Regions from separate parts of the Homo sapiens genome. Here all the other regions are reported to be linked to region 1. Evidence: microRNA targets listed by miRTarBase, many of them from high-throughput screens and not tested one by one. Region 1 holds a microRNA gene; each other region holds the end of a gene's coding sequence.
What was found. The annotated mature microRNA hsa-miR-3923 reads AACUAGUAAUGUUGGAUUAGGG and lies in region 1 at 1,930-1,951, shown strand. An mRNA with a match to its seed (bases 2 to 7 or 8) in the 3' UTR can be bound and repressed. Matches are read on the target gene's strand: a 7mer-m8 pairs with bases 2 to 8, a 7mer-A1 pairs with bases 2 to 7 and ends in A, and an 8mer does both.

Region 2: the mRNA of EREG is a reported target of hsa-miR-3923. Seed matches in the 3' UTR shown: 7mer-m8 at 2,053-2,059.
Region 3: miRTarBase lists CRNKL1 as a target of hsa-miR-3923. Seed matches in the 3' UTR shown: 7mer-m8 at 2,225-2,231.

What each region holds. Positions count from the first base shown.
Region 1 is chr3:79,506,008-79,509,370 of GRCh38, forward strand. MIR3923 (microRNA 3923) reads left to right here and starts at 1,880; the gene lies at 1,880-1,962. All of the region lies in intron 2 of ROBO1 (roundabout guidance receptor 1), which reads right to left.
Region 2 is chr4:74,384,155-74,387,517 of GRCh38, reverse strand. It overlaps EREG (epiregulin), which reads right to left. Exons shown (of 5, transcript NM_001432.3): 5 at 1-2,791. The coding sequence ends at 2,710. Among named protein-coding and RNA genes, the nearest start is that of EREG, 21 kb to the right of the region's middle.
Region 3 is chr20:20,033,360-20,036,359 of GRCh38, forward strand. It overlaps CRNKL1 (crooked neck pre-mRNA splicing factor 1), which reads right to left. Exons shown (of 14, transcript NM_001278628.2): 14 at 1,009-3,000. The coding sequence ends at 2,836. NAA20 (N-alpha-acetyltransferase 20, NatB catalytic subunit) reads left to right here. Exons shown (of 6, transcript NM_016100.5): 6 at 1-296. Among named protein-coding and RNA genes, the nearest start is that of NAA20, 17 kb to the left of the region's middle.

The sequences.
Region 1 (3,363 bases):
CTATATTAAGAGGGTTAATGTTAAGCCTGGACTGGAAATACACCTAGACAACATCTTATCTGAATGAATAAAGAATCTGCATTTTATTAAATTGAAAGAGAGATCACAGGTTTATTTATTTATTATTATTATATTAATTATTTTTAATATGGCAAGTGTTTTGAGATTTTATGATGAGAAATATGCTTTACAAAAAAAGCCTTTCGTAGCAGTGAGGAATAACTGAAATAGATAGTAAGTGGAGGCAGCAATATCAATTAGAAGATTTTTAAGGATATGAATGTCAAATCGTAAGATGCCTAACCAGCAACGGGGTGAATAGAAGTAAGAGATAATGAAATGACAAATAATTAGAATTTATCTGTTTATTGAAGTAGGAACAGAAAAAGTTACTCATCAGATGCCAACAGTAAGTTTCAAAGAAAAGAAATAGAAAAACAATGAGATGAAGCAATTTTTTTTTTTTGAGATGGAGTCTCACTCTGTTGCCAGGCTGGAAGGATCTCGGCTCTCTGCAACCTCCACCTCCCGGGTTCAAGTAATTCTCCTGCCTCAGCCTCCTGCATAGCTGGGACTACAGGCATGCACCACCACGCCCAGCTAATTTTTGTACTTTTAGTAGAGACAGGGTTTCACCATGTTGGCCAGGATGGTCTCGATCTCCTGACCTCGTGATCCACCCGCCTTGGCCTCCCAAAGTGCTGGGATTACAGGCGTGAGTCACTGTGCCCGGCTGAGACAAAGCAATTTTTAAAACAAGTGGATGAATTTGGTGTTAAGTATGTTGAGTTTCAAGTGTCATAAAAGCATATGTGCAACTTACATATTAGGTATGTGAAAGGTTTAAACTGGCAAGTAGGAAAGAGTGTGAATTTGTTATCCATTAACCAAATATCCAAACCCCAATGGAAAGATTACAGAGTTCATAGGAGGTTACTGGAAGGCAATTTGTGTCAGGTTACAACACACTGCCAGTGCTTTATGCAGCCACATCACCTAGATTCTGGAAGTGTCAGTTGCCCAATCAATCAACATACATAATAGAGCTCCTCTTGAGCCCTGGCACTGTTTTACATAAGGGGATCAAACCTGATGATAGATCATGATTCCTATTATAATGCTTAGAGCACATTAGCCGGTTTATTAAAAGCAGGAGAGTGAGGAGCATGATGATGTACAAAACAAGAACTACATCCCTTGTGACCTAATAGGACAGCTACGAAGAGGGTTCTTTGATAAAAATGTAGACCACAAATAAATGCCTACCAAGGTGTCTACACACTCTGAGAACAACTCTATGTGAGTCCCCGGTATACACAAACTATCGGGACCATTAGAAATAAATGGGGGCAGGGGTTTTTGTTCACTGACTTTCCTCTCTATTGAAATAGCTGAAGAGCAGTACTGCAACTTACTACAACAAAAGGCCATATCAAGAGGATGCAAATTTTTTGTGGAGGTTCTTCAGAGCCTTTCAGTAATCTTTCCAAGCATGCTTTCCTTTGTTTTGGGAATGAGAAGTGTAGAAGAGGTTTTTGGTGGTCCTTCTATGCACTTTGCCATTTTATTGTATTGTTCATCATAAAGAATAATTGATCTCTTAATTTTCTAATTTTGCAAGTCTGTGTATATCCACATTTTACTTGGAAACAACATGGGTGTGTTTCTGTGGTATATGCTGGCGGTGTCATGGACTCACCAGGCTTTAATTTTTCTTCACAATATAACATTTAGCAACATTCAGGAAGGTATCCATGATTTTGTGGGCTGAATGGTCCCTTCAAAATTCATATGTTGAAGTCCTAATATTCGGAACCTCAGAATATTACTGTGTTTGGGTATCAGGTGTTGAAAGAGATAATTAGGCTAATATAAGTCTGGTAGAGTGAGCTCTAATCCAATATTACTAGCTTCTTTATAAGAAGAGGAAACTAGTAATGTTGGATTAGGGCTCACTCTACTATTCTCAGCAAAATATCAGCAAAATATCACAAGGACAGGAAACCAAACAATGCATGTTCTCATTCATAAGTGGGAGTTGAACGATGAGAACACATGGACACAGGGAGGGGAACATCACACACTGGGGCCTGTTGGGGGGTGGGGAGCTTGGGGAGGAATAGCATTAGGACAAATACCTAATGTAAATGACGAGTTGATGGGTACAGCAAACCAACGTGGCACATGTACACCTATGTAACAAACCTGCACGTTGTGCACATGTACCCTAGAACTTAAAGTATAATAATAAAAATCAAAAAGAAGAGGAGATTAGGACAGAGGCAAACACAAAAGGAAGACCATGTGAAAACCCATGGAAGAAGATAGCTATCTACAAACCAAACAGTGAGGCCAGAGAAGAAACCAATCCTGCCTAAACGTTGATCTCAAACTTCTAGCCTCGAAAATTGTAAGAAAACAAATTTCTTTGGCTTAAAACCCTCAATCTGTGGTGCTTTGTTATGGCAGACCTAGCAAACTAATACACTCAGTAACAAAGATCTTTGAACTACCATTGCTCAATAGAATGCAAGCAATTTCATTAACACTTTTTTATTGCTTAAATAAAAGCAATTTCCACCAAAAACCTTATGGCTTTTCATTCCCCCAAAAAGGAATTCTCAGAAATTACGTTTGATTAAAATTTGTGTTAGTATTGTAAAACAGAATGCAGGATCTGGCATCCGTTTTCTAATTATCTCTGAGAAAAAATCAAAAATATAAATGAAGCAATTAGAGTCTGCTCATCAAAATAAGTGACCTTCTTCTATTTAGCATGGGTTTTGTTGGAGGCTGGTCAAGTTAATTACACATTATTCTCTTATTCTGTAGACAAACATTTATAATATGTGGGCTTTATTGGCATATAATTGTTTAGTTTACTTTTCTTAGAATCATGTATTTCATTTAAGATACAATCTGACAAAACAAAGTATAAGTCTTATAGAAATAACACAGTTGAAAAGAATTCATAGTTGAAGACAAGATTAGCTTTTTTTCAAGGTATAGGATAAGCATATTTGATGACACATTAGTAAGTCCTTAGCAAAAACAATTTTTATAATGTAGGAGCACATAGTTAATTTATTGCAAAAAGATAAAACACTATTTTTGGGCAGGGATATAATTTCCAACATGGATTCAGATCTATTATGTACCTAAAGGAATCACCTAGACTTGTCTTTTTCCTGTGAAAAAAACAACATATTCTGGGATTATAGCTGGTTCTACTTTATTATTTTTTTTTTCTGGAAGGCAGCCAAATTTCAGTGCTTAGCAATATTTATGGCGGAATTAAATCACATTTGCTGTAGTTTAAACACCTCTCTTTTTAATGTTCCTGCTTATGCTCATTTTAAAATG
Region 2 (3,363 bases), not on the chromosome of region 1:
TCTAACTATTTTAGGGATTAGCTTTTTTAAGCATTCTTAAAGATGAAAAATACAAAAATGACTTGTTTTTATGAATTGACATGCTTAAGATAAACTGACAAACCAAGATTGAGATGCTTACAATAAATCTTTTGTAAATGAAATAAATGGATTGCAGCTGATTTATTGAAAAGTCAATAGATTTTTTTGAAACAGCCAAGATCACTGAAAATATTCAGACTCTCCTCACATCTAGTAAGCGTTAATAAATACAGTTGTACCTTGGTATCCACAGGGGACTGATTCCCAGATCGCCCCCCTGCACATACTAAAATCGGGCACAGATGTTCAAGTCACTTATATAAAAGGGCATAGTGCTTGCATATAACCTATTCACATCCTCCTGTATACTTAAATCATCTTTACATTACTTGTAATACCTAATGTAAATGCTACGTGCGGTGGCTCACACCTGTAATCCCAGCAGTTTGGGAGGCTGTGGAGGGTGGATCTCAAGGTTAGGAGATTGAGACCATCCTGGCCAACATGGTGAAACCCCGCCTCTACTAAAAATACAAAAATTAGCTGGGCATGGTGGCATGCGCCTGTAGTCCCAGCTGCTCAGGAGGCTGAGGCAGGAGGATCTCTTGAACCCGGGAGGTGAGGTTGCAGTGAGCCGAGATCGTGCCACTGCACTCCAACCTGGGCAACAGAGCGAGACTCCATCTCAAAAAGAAAAAAAAAAAAGTAAATAGTTGTTATAATGTATTTTTTGTTGTTGTTGTATTATTTTTTAAGCATTTTCCGTCCTTGGTTGGTTGAATCCACAGATGTGGAACTAACCACAGAGGGCCAACTGTAAGTAGAGTATTTAAAATGTGTTCTTACATATTTTGACTTCAGCTGTATTAAATAGGAAACAGAAATAACTGTTTAGATCTAATTGATTTTTCTTTTCTCTTGTTTTTAAGTTTTATATAAATGGTTAGCAGAGCACCAAATGACTGCAATTCTATGATCCATTAAGGTCATGTATACATACATGTTTGTATATGAATATATATACAATATGTATATGACCATATATATTTACTTGTTTTTGTCTGTTTATTTTCCTAATAGTAAGGGCCAGGGCCAGGACTTTAGATGACAGTCGTGTGATTGCACCAGGGTATATAATGCATGGATACACATGGAGACAAGTCCTGGCACCTGGTGCTCCAGAGGTCAGCCATGGCTTATTATGCCTTCGTTTACCCTAGCACATGCCAGGATAAACGTAGAGGAAGAACAGATCCTCCCTGACCTGGTATGTGATCCAGGGAGACTCTACTCAAAGGTTTAGCATTCGATGAAGGAGCCTCCCATAAAATCCAAAAGTGGTGGCAGCAGTGGCTCCTTATGCAATAGCCCAAAAATACTCCTATTAACTCTCTGAGACCTATGGGCTCAGAGTGCAGAAGAAATCTTTGTCTCTTCCAAAAAATAAACAAATGTCAGGAAAATGAGCCCTAGTTTTCATCTCAGCCTCCACAGGAAGGTGTGTTTAAGTTTCTACATTTTAAAAGCTTTCAATTGAGATTTTTCATTTGGAAAAATACACCATATTAATTTTTAAGTTTTTTCCCATTTCCTGTGTCAAGATACAACTTTAAATACATAACTTTACATTCTAGAAGAAGCCATTTACTGAGCTGTATTAAAGTTAAAACTTCCTTGAATAAAAGATGAAATAACTGTATTTCCATCTTAAGACAACATGTAGAATTATTGTCTTCATATATTTTAAAATAATAATTAGTCCATCAAATTTTGGGCTGTGATTTAATGTTAGAATTCAGCAAAGCCCCTATAAAAAGAAATAGTCTAAAAATATTCTTAAAAAGCACAAATTTAGGCTTCAAGTGTGGACTTTTTTCTAATTGTCTGTTGAGCAATAATTACCTCACATAAATGTTGTAATATACAAAAAAGGAACATTGTGAAGCTATGAAATGCCCACTACTTAAATAAAAGATTACAGAAAATTGTTTTTCAATTCATTTTACATAGGCAGAATCTGGTAGATGAGTGACTAGTACCTGTAGGAGTCGTGAGTTGGCATAGGGAACTGTCCACTGCCCCTCATATAACAGAATTATAGCTGAGACCTGAGTGAAGAGACCATAGACTCCCCAGGGTTAGCTTGTTTCAAATGTGTAGTGTTTAACACAGGACCTATATTTGCTTCTCCCAAATTCTAATTGCATTATTGTTTTAATATATGATACCATGGTGCCAACTACATATCAAACCATGGTACAGTCAAACCAATTATCACTGATTTGAGGAACATAAAAAACATACTTACTAAATCGATTTGACTATATATATAGGCTTACAGAAATCTGTCATTTGCTAACAATTCTTGAGCTATGACCTGGGAATTGCTTACTTCTAAGCACTGTGCACCAGGCATATAAACTTTGAAGCTTTCAATGAAGCATTTAGCTCAGGAAATTACTTGTATAAAAATATCAATTTTCTTTTGATATTAAATATTTTCTGCACATTATACATTAGCAAATAGTCTGTCAAAAATAAAACAAAAATAAAAACATTTTTCAAGTACATTAAAATACAGTGTTATTGACCTAACACTTGACCCAACATAAATATTATTAATAAAATGGGAATATTAATATTAACCAGGCACACTGTTATCCCTGCCCATAAGTTTGATGGCGCCATTCAGACTTGCGGCAACTCTGGATCCCCTGAGGTAACTCTCTCATATTCCTTCTTTGGTTCTTTACTTTTTCGATTTCTGTACCTGGAAATATTCACAAACGAAACTGTTAGCACTGCAGTTAATAGCAAAGGAACAAGTGTGTTATATATGGACTCCAAAGGCACATTAGCATAGTGTTTCCAAAATGACAAAGTTGAACAGATTTAGGTTGGACAATGTTAAAAAAAAAAAAAAAAAGAGGGATGAAGAGGTGATGTGCTGTAGTCAAACAATTTTGGAATGAAATGATAAAATACACTTAAAGAGTTTCTCAAAGTCTTTAACGTGATCATGAATATTGTGAAATTCCAAGAGGCGTGTGGCCACATTTAAGTCTGAATTTTAGGTTTTCTTTTTCTGTCTCTCTTTCTTTTTCCTTCCTCCCTTCTAAGGAATGAATATTTACAAATCATGCTACATTAATACACTCTTTCCATCACATTGATATAATGCTATCACTAATCAAAATAAAAATAATATTTATCAGGCACTAATTTGGTGACCTACAATTTTCTAAGTGCTATACATGCATTATTTATTTTACTCTCACATTTGCTGTTACCATCCTCATCTTACAGATGAAGAAAGTGAAATACAAATGGGTTGTATATAAT
Region 3 (3,000 bases), not on the chromosome of region 1:
ATCATACCTATTAAAGCTGTTCATTGTAACAAAATTCAATCAAAAAGGCAGCTAGGTCAGAAGGAAACATACCACTCTCATGGTTCATAGTATTCACTGTATGTATGCTAGGGAAAAGACTTGCTCCAGTCTCCTCCTCAGTTCTGTGCCTGAGAACCACTGCTGCATATATTTGTTTTTAAATTTTGTATTGAACTGTTAATTGAAGCTTTAAAAGCATATATGAAATGTATAAATCTAAGATGTATAATACATTATTGACTCTATGAATGTTTTCTGAAGTTTGTTAGTCATTTGTAAAACTAAATCAGATTGTAATCCCAGTACTTTGGGAGGCCAAGGCAGGCTGATTGCTTGAGGTCAGGAGTTTGAGACCAGCCTGGCCAAAATCTATACTAAAAAAAATACAAAAATTAGCTGGGCATCCCAGCTATGCAGAAGCTGAAGCACAAGAATTGCTTGAACCCTGGAGGTGGAGGTTGCAGTGAGCTGAGATCGTCCCACTGCACTCCAGCCCGGGCAACAGAGTAAGACCCTGCCTCAAGAAAAAAAAAAAAAAAAAAAATCAGGATTGTGAAAGGTCATCATCATTTAAGATACGTTTAATTAAATTGTGACTTCCATACGTAGTATTTTAAAAATGCACACTTGAAGCAATCACTGTCCAGCATACTTAAGAAGCTCCCTTCTTATCGTGTAGTAAATTCTTCCCAGTCACCTGCGTTCATACCATTATACTGTTTGTTTGTTAGTCCTAGATCTTTTCTCCTCTTCACAATGCTTTGCTTAAATCCTGCCCTTCTAAAAAGCCAAAAAAAAAAAAAAAAAACTTGAGGTTTTTTTTTTTTTTGGAGAGGGAAAAGAACATAATTCCTAAAGAAAGGCCATATAACTATATCATAGGCCAACCATGTATTTTATGTGTAGTGTCTTCCTCTGTAATATGTGAAAATATCCAGTTAGTTAGTTAGTGAAAGACTTAACGAAAGAAAAACCCACAAGAAATTATTAAACTTTTACTATCGAAAGGATTTACTTTGGTGGAGTTGAGGGTGGGAGAGAAATGAATCTTTATGTTCTCCTGTTAGAGAATAGCTTTTTTCCTTCCAGCTTTCACACTGGCACATGCTTATTACAATTCTACCTTGGGAACATGACAGAATTTTTTTCTTATGCATTCATGCAACATAAACAGATAATTCTAGGAAGACTGTGATTAAGTCACTTGCATTCTGACCTATTATTTTCATCTCTCCCTGACTCTGGGTGAGCCAAAGGCTATTAAGATGATGTTCTCCTGCTCACTCACTAGGCAGACCTCTACTCGAGAAGTGATCTGACACCGCAGTAGCTGATGCTCGTCCAGTGACTAAAGCAGTCAGGCTGAAAACAGATTTTATCTCAACAACAGTCCTAGTTTCTTCTGTCCTCAAACACTGTTATTTATTTTCAAGATAAAATTTAGTAACAACATTACGAAGTAGCTTTTATTCCCTTGGGTGAATAAGATGTGCACATTTAATAATAAATTTGCTTACTAAAGGTCCTTTTAGGGGAAAACAACCTTAAAAATACAGTTCTAGTCCTTGGGCAGTGAACAAAGAAAAAATGTGCTTGAGAAACACAGTCCAGGTTAAAGGAAAACTCTCAGATCGGTTAATGCAGTTGAATTTTTGCTTGAGAATGTGAGCAACGTATCAGCAAATACATTCATTCTTGTGCTACTCTTCATTATTTAGCATAGAGCTACCTTAGGTGTTTCTACACATGCTCTAAACCAAGAGTAAGTTTAACATGTCAGCAGTGAGGAGTAGACATTTTCTACTATAGCACACTGGGAGATGTTTACTGGTACTCTAGGTAGAAATGACTCCATTGTCCACTAAGTTTGGGAAATAAATAATATGGCAACATTGCTACTGGAGATACATAATGTACAGAAGCCTAACTATAAAGAGATTTGATTAACGAGACTTAAGTCTTAGTCCAGAATTTCCCAAATTTATGTGAACATGGGACATCATTTTTCATAGCACACACGTGAACAAGCCATTATTCTTTAAACAAGGTATTACAAACTCAACCACTCTGGAGAACTGATGAGCGCCTAACTGAAATTATTAGACTAAATTCTTAGTAAACAATGTTTTCTGAACCTTGTTCAGAAATATAATCACTGCAAATTATTTTCCAAGTGTTGTTCTAAAAAACAATATAACTGGACACTAGTAAGAAAGTAAGGTAAATTATTAATCCACTCGCATTCAATTCTACAAGGAATGAAACCATTTTTAAAAGTGGCTTAGAACAAACAATTTACTGAGCACTTACTATGCACCCACCAGGTATATTCCTTTTATAATGTAATCTTCAAAATGAGCTGTCAAACTATTGGCCCATTTTGTGAATGAGGAAAATGAAAATTAAGTTATATAATCATGAGTGGCAGAGCTGGGAAATGAACTCAAGTCTGTGACTCTGAAGACATGAAAAAGTTACACATTTCAGATGAATGCATAAACTATCTTTATGGGTATGACATGAAAAGTAACTGTAGAATGTTACCTTAATTACATTTCCTAATGCATGATGTGGACAGACATTAGAAAAGTTTGGACTCAGTTGGAAAAACAAATCCAGCAGTTAAAAAAGTCCTTTACTTGCAATCCCTACCCCTAGCTAACCCAAGAGCATTTAAAAAATAACTTAAAAAGTAGCCATCAAAGATACCAATCAATTTCTTACTGGTGAAATATATAAGAACTTCCAGGAGTCACAAGAGTTCCAAACAATTAATTTATAAAAATAACAAAACATTTGTCTATGAAAAAAAGATCAGGATTCACTCTCATCGACGTCCTCATCTGGATGGTGCTCAGCATCCTCCTTTTCCTGCTGCTGTTTCTTCCACAGTTTGGCCATGGCCAGGAGTTTGAGGTTAGGTTGGTTGGCAGCATCTTCTGGAAAGATGTAATCAAAGTATTCTTCCCAGCCTGCATC